Linked DNA regions of Homo sapiens: region 2 is linked to region 1. The links come from fine-mapping of genetic effects on gene expression. A gene starts in region 1. The other region holds a variant in brackets. All regions are shown on one strand. Distances are from middle to middle. Region 1 holds the start of CHST13 (carbohydrate sulfotransferase 13). Region 2 overlaps C3orf22 (chromosome 3 open reading frame 22).

Evidence for each region. PIP is the estimated chance that this variant, and not a neighbour inherited with it, causes the effect.
Region 2: its variant is fine-mapped to the expression of CHST13 in whole blood (INTERVAL, PIP 0.95).

Annotation. Positions count from the first base shown.
Region 1 is chr3:126,521,950-126,526,334 of GRCh38, reverse strand. It overlaps CHST13 (carbohydrate sulfotransferase 13), which reads right to left and starts at 2,180. Exons shown (of 3, transcript NM_152889.3): 1 at 1,906-2,180. The coding sequence starts at 2,002. RefSeq lists enhancers at 793-1,293, 1,294-1,794, 1,855-2,355, 2,356-2,856.
Region 2 is chr3:126,545,814-126,550,198 of GRCh38, reverse strand. C3orf22 (chromosome 3 open reading frame 22) reads left to right here. Exons shown (of 4, transcript NM_152533.3): 4 at 121-507. The coding sequence ends at 331. Among named protein-coding and RNA genes, the nearest start is that of C3orf22, 11 kb to the left of the region's middle. RefSeq lists enhancers at 1-245, 246-1,127. The variant G/T (reference allele first, on the strand shown) is at 1,811.

The sequences.
Region 1 (4,385 bases):
AGAGGCCAAGGGCAGGGGATGCCCCTCCAGCAGGACTAGCCTGGCAGGAAAAGGCCTTTCCCAGCTGAGTGCCCTCCCTGTGTGCCACCTGCAGGCCCACAAGCATAGTCTCAGCCAAAGCTTCAGCTCAGGGCTTGGGAGAGAGAAAAGCCAGTGTGAGAGGCTGGATAGGTTGGTCTGATTAACTCTTGCTCGCCCAAGGTCACTCACAAAGCTGTGATGGCTGGAGACAGGCCATGGGAGAGGTACAAGAGCGCTTGACAGAAACAGAGAGAGATGCTGAGATGCTGGGTGAGGTCATGGCCAAGAGCAGGACAGGCCAGGTGGAGAGCCCAGCCTGCGCAGAGGCTGGGAAGGGAGGTTCGGAGCCGTCCTCCTAACACCTGCTGTCTCTTCCCAGGCTCTGCAGGAGAGGGAGGGAGGTCAGAAGGAACAAAGCCCAGAAGGTGACTAGTACCTTGGTTTGTTTCTCATCCCTCAAACCTGGGTAGAGTAGGTGACAGGAGAGAGGTGTCCCACGGAGACATGGGGACGCAGACACTCCATGCAGTCACTCAAAGATGTATGCTCCTTTGCAGACACTCCCCGGGACCCAGGCACTCAGGTGTCCTCTAACATCCCACGCTGAGCCCTGAGGGGCCAGTAGCCACCAAGTTCTGCCCTGTCTTAGTACTGGGTAAACATCTGTCTACTGAATGACTCGGTGGACAGAGGCTGTGGCAGCCACAGACACTGAGTCCACACCCCAGACTGCCAGGAGATTGTCTGCTCAACACCACCAGACAGCTCACAGAAGGGGTTGTGGGGGTGCTGGAAAGAGACACCCCAGCCCTATCCCATGGGCTTGGGGAGGCATCCAGGTCTGACCTGCTGTGTCTGGACACACAAGGGGCAAGGGGCAGTGTGAGGGTCAGGGGGAGTGGGCAGAGGCCTCCCCAGGCCCTGATATCCTCAAGTCTTGGGCCACTCCCACCCCCACTGCCCAACATCCCCGCCCACCCTGGACCTAGTTACTTACTCCCTGGGACTGTGTCTGCCAGGTTCCAAGGGTGGGGCCCAGGATTCTCAGAGCCCACACTGGGGGTGGGGAGGCGGACTGAGTCGTCCCACCCAGCACGCATACCACATACAAGGAAAGGCAAACAGCCCTGAGGTCAGGAGACCCGGGCGCTGGCTGGGCCCCTCCAGTCCCAAGTAGATTGTATAGCCAGCACGTTGCCACCACACCTGTCTCCCCACTCTCTGGCCCGCTTCAGATTGTGTGAAATGGGTTGATGGGAGGCTTCACATGAGCTGAGGAGAGACTCAGAGCAAAGACTCAGCACCGGTGGAGCCCAGGGCACTCAGCTCTGCGGAGTCATGACTAACTGCCTCAGTTTCCCCAGCCAGACCACGAGTGGGTGCACAGGAGTCCCAAGCCCTACCCAGTGTGGATTTCAGGGTGGAGCAGGGAGTGGCACCCACTGCACAGTAGGACAACCAAGGGACCGGACCGAGTGGCCCAAGCTTCCCCTCCTATGCGCATGCGCCCAGCAGCGCTCATGTCCAGGGGCCGTGGGGTGCGCAGGGGAAGGGGGTGAAGGTAAGGGAGATGGCCTTCCCGGATTGGCCAATTGTCCTCTACCCCCCACAACTGACCCCGGTCTCCAGGCACCGGCTGTGGGACTCAAAACAGTCACCGCTCTGGGAGTGGGGAGGTAACTCCGGAGGAGGAGCAAGAGCCTTTGCTCGCGGGGGCGTCTAGAGCCTTTCTGTGCCTCACCAGCGCCCCTGCCCGCCACCCCTAGCCCCAGCCAGGAAGGAGACAACAGGTGTCCCCCGCGCTGTCGAGGGGTCAGGCCGCGGTGGAAAGCGCGAGGAGCCAGGTTTGGTTGGGGGTGCGCGGCTCGGCCGGCGGGCACTCACCCGGGCGCAGGGAGCGGGGCGCGGCGCATAGGAGCAGGAGCGCGGCGCCCAGACAGGCGGCCGCCAGCACGCGCCGCCGGCAGCAGCGCCTCCCCATGCTGTGCCGGGCGCGCGGCGGAGGACAGTCCGCTGGATACGGCTGGGGGCGGAGTTGCACTGGCCCAGGACCCGGCCCCGGCAGCGCAGCGCCTACCAAGACGCGCGGCGCGGCGCAGGGCAGGGGAGCACGGCAGCTGGACCCCAGCCCCACCAGCCCCTGCGAGTCGCTGGGGACTGAGGAGGCGGGACACGGTGGGGCCGCAAGCCCGCTCCTCTTTTCGTGCCCCCACCCTCACCCAATGGAATGGGGCCGAAGTCCAGGGCGCTAGGGCGGAGACTGATTGGGGAAGCCCCTCGCCTCTGGGCCCCGCCCCTAGGGTTTGCCCAGGGGTGCCATTATCCACCCAAGGCCAAGAGGCATTGTCGCGGTGGCGTGCCCCACCCCGGGCGGTGTCCCCTTGCCTTTTTGCTGCCTTAGATGCCAGGGGCCCAAGGGCTGATCTGGGATGAACCAAGGAGCCTAGTAGAGCGTTGCCCTGTCCATGGCTCTCCGGGACCCCCGCCCTCAGTAAGAGGCCTAAGAGTGTCCCTCCCTCCCCGACCCAAGGCTACCCTGCAGCCTTGCTTTCCTCCAGGGTCTCCAGGTCCTGCCTGAATCTAGCTCATGCAGGTGGCACTAGCCTTTGCACAGAGAGGTAGGGTCTCAGCTTACATCCCCCGGGGAATGGAGCTTGTGCCTCATCGTGTCACCCACAACTTCTCTGGGCACCACGTGAGCTCTGAGGACTTGCCAGGGACTGTGTGTGTGTGTGTGTGTGTGTGTGTGTGTGTGTGTGTTGGGGGGTGGAGGGGGCGAGGTGAGAGTAAAGTCCAGCCTTTGAAAGACACACACATCCAGCTAGCCCTGTGGGCAGGAGCCCACGTCTAACCGCAGGGTCTTGCTGCCCAGAAGTCAGGCTAGCAGGGAACGGGAGGGTGCAGCTGGCACTGGGTGCGCGGATGAGTGCGTTGGAAACAACATTTAGCAGTGTGAGTGCATGGGATAGGGTACTACATTACACTGTAGGTTTTTTTTGGAGTTTTTTGTATAAATGTAAGGGACACAAGTGCAGGTTTGTTACATGGAGATATGCAGTGGTGAGGTCTGGGCTTTCCGTGTAACCATCACCTAAATAATGTCCATTGTACCCATTAAGTAATTCCTCATCCCTCCCACCTCGCTCACTCTCCTACCCTTCCAAGTCTCCAGTGTCTATTATTCCACACTCGAAGCTCCAGTTGTTAAACTGTTCTTGAAAAATGTGGTGACTCCAAACCCACCTGGTGCCGCTTACTGCTGTGGGAGATTAGGAAATTAACTGCACCTCTCTGTTTCCCATTTTCCTGTACGGGGGGATAATCCTAAACCTCAGTGCTGTGAAGATTAAATGAGATACAGGAAATGTTTGCAACAGTGTCTGGCACTCAGTGAGTGCCAGGTAAGTATTTGATATTAGTAATTAATTTGTTTATGGTTACTGCCTGTTTCTGGCAAGTGGCTGGTTTCTGTTAAAGTGGTGAAATAAAAATTTCTCCCTACTATATTTATTTAAGTTGTGGAAGATCTATTTAAGGAAGAATATTAAGCAAATAATAGTTCTGCTGGTTTTGAGATACAGCTTTAAATGGTGATGATGTTCTCAAAGGACAGGGGTGGGAGTCCAGACTCACAGTAAGCTAGAAGCTTCTTATCATGACTTTTCTGGCCTTGGGGAACCTCTAGCCCACCCCCAGACTGGCCCAGGACCCAGGGATTCCAGGTCATCTGCATTCCCTGCCGGACCTAACTCGCATCCAAAGGTGCCTTCCAAATTTCCCCAGACCGGCATTCCCTGGCCTCACTGCCAGCCTGGAATCCTCAGCGCGCTTTGCCCTTATATGCTGCCACCTGGTGGCCAAAGTTGGGAATAACATCTCAGCCCTTCATCCGGAGATGTCCCTGGAAATGGGGTCCCTGGAGAAAGGAAGAGATGGTCTTGGGTCTTGGGGTGGGAGGGTGCAGATGCCTGGCTAGACGCCCGGGGCCTAGGGAGCTTCCCTGCGAAGACGCCCTCTCCCAGGGACTCGCATTCATTCATTCATTCGACAGATACAGAACACCCACTCCGTGCTGAGGCCTGGGTGGAGAGGGTGAGACCCATGCAGTGTCTGCCCTCACAGCATTTCCATTACAGATTGGAAGCACGGAAAATCAGGATAGAGAGATAGAGCGGTGAATGCTGCTGTGAAGAAAACACAGCGGGTACCAGGATGAAAAGTGTGTCCGGTGCAAGGAGGGTGCCGGGGCAGGCCTGGGGGAGGTGGCATTGGAGCAGAGATGTGACTCCAGGGAGCAGAAGCCAGCAGGTACCATTGCAAAGGCCCTGAGGTGATGTTCCAGTTGCTGTTGCTAGGTAACAAAC
Region 2 (4,385 bases), 24 kb before region 1:
TGGGAGTAGATCTCAGTTGGAGCCCTCCCAGATGTGGCCCTGGCTGACTTCTCTGGGCTGCAATGGCTGCAGCCAGCAGGGGTCCTGAAGGCCAGGCGTGGCTCTGTGTGGCTTCTCTAGGCTCGGGGCTCCAGATTTTACATCACCGTCTGGCTCCTGCCCGGCACCACTACCAGCACCATCACCACCTCCACTGTGCAACCTTTGGGAACTCAAGTTGCTGAGTCGCCGCTTCCCCAGACAACTCGCCTTCCTGCTGTCCACCCGGCACACTGAGGCTGCCTGCCCCCAGACCAGCAAGGCGGCAGGGCTGTCCAGGGGCCTCTCCTAGAGACTGGGCTCTGTGTGTGGCCTTCTTATTGGCCACCTTCTCCTTGGCAGGCTCTGGGCAGTAGCCACAGAGACTTTAGTAAAGGGATCAGCCTTCATGGCCATCATAGACCGGGAGTGGTTTGTGGTCCCCCCAAAAAGCTACACCAAGCTAATAAACTGCGAGTTCCCACCCCACTTCCAGCTGGAATGATCACTTTGCCTCCCTGAGCCTTCATTTTCTCATCTCTAAAATTGTTGTAATAATGTTTAATCTTGCAGGGTTGGTGTGAGGATTAAAAAGAGCATGAATGTCACTTCTAGGACTTTATCCCAAATGTACACTCACACAGGTAAGTAAATGCTGTTCACTCCAGTGCTGCTGGAAACAGCAAAGGATTGGAAAGCAGCTAAACTGTTTGCTAAACACTCACAGGAAACTGCTAAATTATACAACTACTCCCGGAAATCTTAGGCAGCCATTCAAATGTAGAGGCAGCTCTTTATAGACTGATCTGAATGATGTACAGGTCTGTTACAATTTTTGTTAAAAAGCACAGCAGAAGAGTGTGTCTGATATGCTGCCATCTTGTGTTTACTAAAAACGGTGTGTGTATGTGTGTGTGTGGGGGGGGGGGCGTGGATGAGGAGCAGGCAGCAATCATTACCTTTGAGGAGGAGAATGGGGGACCTGGGGACAGGACCGAGAGTGAGGCACACCATTTTGTGGGTTGTCATACATGAGCCTAATGCCATATTCCTGTATTACAACATCAGTAATGTAAGGAGCGTGGTGTGGCTGCTGGAGGCTGGTGATGCCTTTGTAAAGCAAGACAGCAGCACTGGGCAGCGGGGTGCCTGCTGAAGATTTAAGGGTCCCCCCACTGTGTTCTACAAATACAGGGGCTAGAAAGTCACCTTGGAGTTCCTTGGGAGGGTGAATAAAATCAGGACACTTTGCAGCCTTCTCCCTGGAGTGGGATGTGGCTTTATTGTCTTCTCCCCAGGTGGGCAAGTGGCTTTATTGTCTCAGAAAGGAAGTGAAGTGAGGACCCTTGTGATGAAAAGATTGAAGGGGGTTGGCTTCCCAGGCCCTGGGGGCAGGACAGGGGTGGGTTCCCAACCTGCACGAAGCAGACCCTGGAGTCACATCTGTGGTGTTTGGGGAAGGGTGACCGGGCTGCACTGTGCCGCCCCAGCCAAGACTCCAGGCTCCCTCCCCAGGTGGGACCCCAGGTCCAGGCAGGGGACTCACAGCATTTGCCTGGGGATAGAGTACAGCTTCCAGCAGCACCCACAGACCTGCAGGAAGCAAAGATCCCTGGGGTCCCTTCCTGTGAGGGTGGGAGCCAGGCTGATCTTCATTTGGACTGTATAAGCTTCGAGGAGGTTGTCTCTGAGGTTTAAGCTATGCACTGTTTGATATAAGCAAAATACAGCAACGCATGTTTACCATGCAGCATAACCAGGGACACGAGACCCACTCTTATCCCTGCTGGGT[G/T]CTCCTTCCCCCACTTCACCACACCCTGAGTCCCTCGTACCCTGCCCATCAGGTCACCACATCTTTCTCCCCACTTAAAAAATGTTATAATTTGGCCAGACATGGTGGCTTACGACTGTAATCCCAACACTTTGGGAGGCTGAAGGCAGGTGGATCACTTGAGCCCAGGAGTTCGAGACCAGCCTGGGCAACATGGTGAAACCCCGTCTCTACTAAAAATACAAAAATTAGCTGGGCATGGTGGCATACGCCTGTGATGCCAGCTACTCAGGAGGCTGAGGCAGGAGAATGGCTTGAACCCAAGAGGTGGAGGTTGCAGTGAGCTGAGATCGCACCACTGCACTCCTTGAAATAACACATTGTTTGCTTTTTTCAATTATATAAGACTGTGTCAAACTCTGCAACTTTTTCCCCTCCACAGCAAGTTGCTAAGAGTCATGTGATGATGATGCTACTGCTGTAGTTCCTTCATTTTCCACTGTTTCTCATTCCATGATGTGTCCATTCTCTTTTGGGTAGATGTCTGGGTTGTTTCCACTTTGTGCTACTGTGGGTGCTGCTGCTCTAGGCATTCCTGTCCCTGTCCCCTGGGGTGTACTGTCTCCCCTCCCCAACCCATGATAGGATTTGCTGGTTGGTTGGTTGGAGGGCTCCTGAGCACCTCCTTTATCAGCTCTTGCCAGAACAATTTCCAGAGAGTTCCCAGCCTCTCCAGGTTCCCTCTGGTCCACACCTGCACTATAGGCAGGGCCCAGAGCTTTTGGGACTGGAGCAGGAGGGGTCGCTGGCTGCCTGCTCTTCCACTCATGATAGCAAAGCTGGTGGTGGTTTGTAGAAAAAGTTGGTAACTCATTACCTGAATCCAGAGTCAATTATAAAAACATACATGGTCTGTAATTCGTGCCTCCTCTCCTGGGCGTTTAAAGGAAGAATCTGAGGGCAGCTGGGATGTGTTTGCAGCCCCTGCCTTGTGCACTGAGTTTAGGTTTATGTGCATGTTATTCCTGCAAAGAAGAAAATGAGCCCCCAGGAAGCTGCACCGCATGGAAGCCCTTGCAGAGGAGCGGGTGACAGCTGAAATGTTTGACAGGAGAGAGATGGTGCAGCAATACTCTCTAAGCACAGCTACTCCATAAACTTTAGAAATGCTCACACAGTGGCCCAGATAGCAACATGGGCCCTGTGCCCTGCATCTCTGAGGCCATCTGGGTCCCCATGTGCCCTTAAGCTGTGAGCAGTTACAGTCAAACACAGATCCACAGGTAGAAAGGATGAGGCACGGTGGAGGTGCATTGGGGAGTGTGGACCCTCTCCCAGGAGTTTATCCTGCAGTCACACTCACACCTATGCAGGAGGAGGGTATGCAACAACATTCATGTCGGCACTGCCACAGAAAAGGATCCAAACTAACCTAGCATTTAAGACCAGTGGAACAAAAGCAGCATGTCATCATGGATTTATGGTTGATTCCCTCTTTGCCTCAGTCCCGCAGAACCAGCTCTGGAGGCAAGGATGGAGTGTGAGTAGTTTTTGTGAGAGGCAATCCCAGTTAGCCCATAGAGAAGTAGGGAGGAGACAGGGAAGGGACGGAACCAGACAAGGAATGTACCCTTGAGCTGGCAACCACGGCTTAGTCTGCTGGGACCACCGTAGCAAACACCACAGGCTGGGGGGAGTTAAACAATGTTCATTTTCTCCCAGTTCCAAGGAAGGCTGGACGTCCAAGGTGAAAGTGCTAGCTGCCTTGGTTCCCTGATGGGGGCTCTCTTCTCTCTTCTGGGCTTGTAGATGGCTGCTTTCTCCCTGTGTGAGAGGGAGAGGCGGGGAGGGAGAGAGAGAGAACTCTCCAGTGGCTCTGCTTATGAGGACACTAATCCCACCATGGAGACCGCATCCTCATGACCTCATCTCAACCTGATCACCTCCCAAAGGCCCCATCGCCAAATAGCATCACATTGTGGGTGAGGGCTTCCACATAAGACTGGGGAGAACATAATTCAGTCCACAGCAGCCACTGAGGGCATTTGGTGCCCAGTCCCCGTGGGGAAATCTGGGGCACCATGCAGATTGTGTCTCAATGTCCTTCATGCAGGGATAAAAGCTGGAGCATTTATCGCCCGACTTCCAACAGATGTAGGTGAGGACTGCTTCCAGGGGGCACTAACTCCTGCACACCCAGCCTTCTTGTGCCCAGGCCAAGAGGCCTGGTGGTCAGAGGGAGACTGCGGGAGGGTTGCAGATGCTAGGGAGCGCATTGAGGCACCCGACCTAAAACTGGCTGTCAGTTCCCAGACTCCCTTGCCACTGGGAATACAGTGGGCTAGGTTCAGGCCAATGGCATTGCACTGGAAATGGAATGGACTGTCCAGTTTGTGTCTTTAAAGCCAGCTTGGGTGCCCTTCTTTTCCCTTTGACATTGGGATACTTGAAAAGTGAATGGCTCACTCTCATGGAAAAGGGCCAGGCCCTAGGGACTAGGGAGCAACAAAAGAGAAGGGTCCTGGGCTCCAAGTGGCCCATTGGAGCATCTGTCCCACCAGCCCTCAGCCCCCTTCCTCTGGATAACAGAAAACAC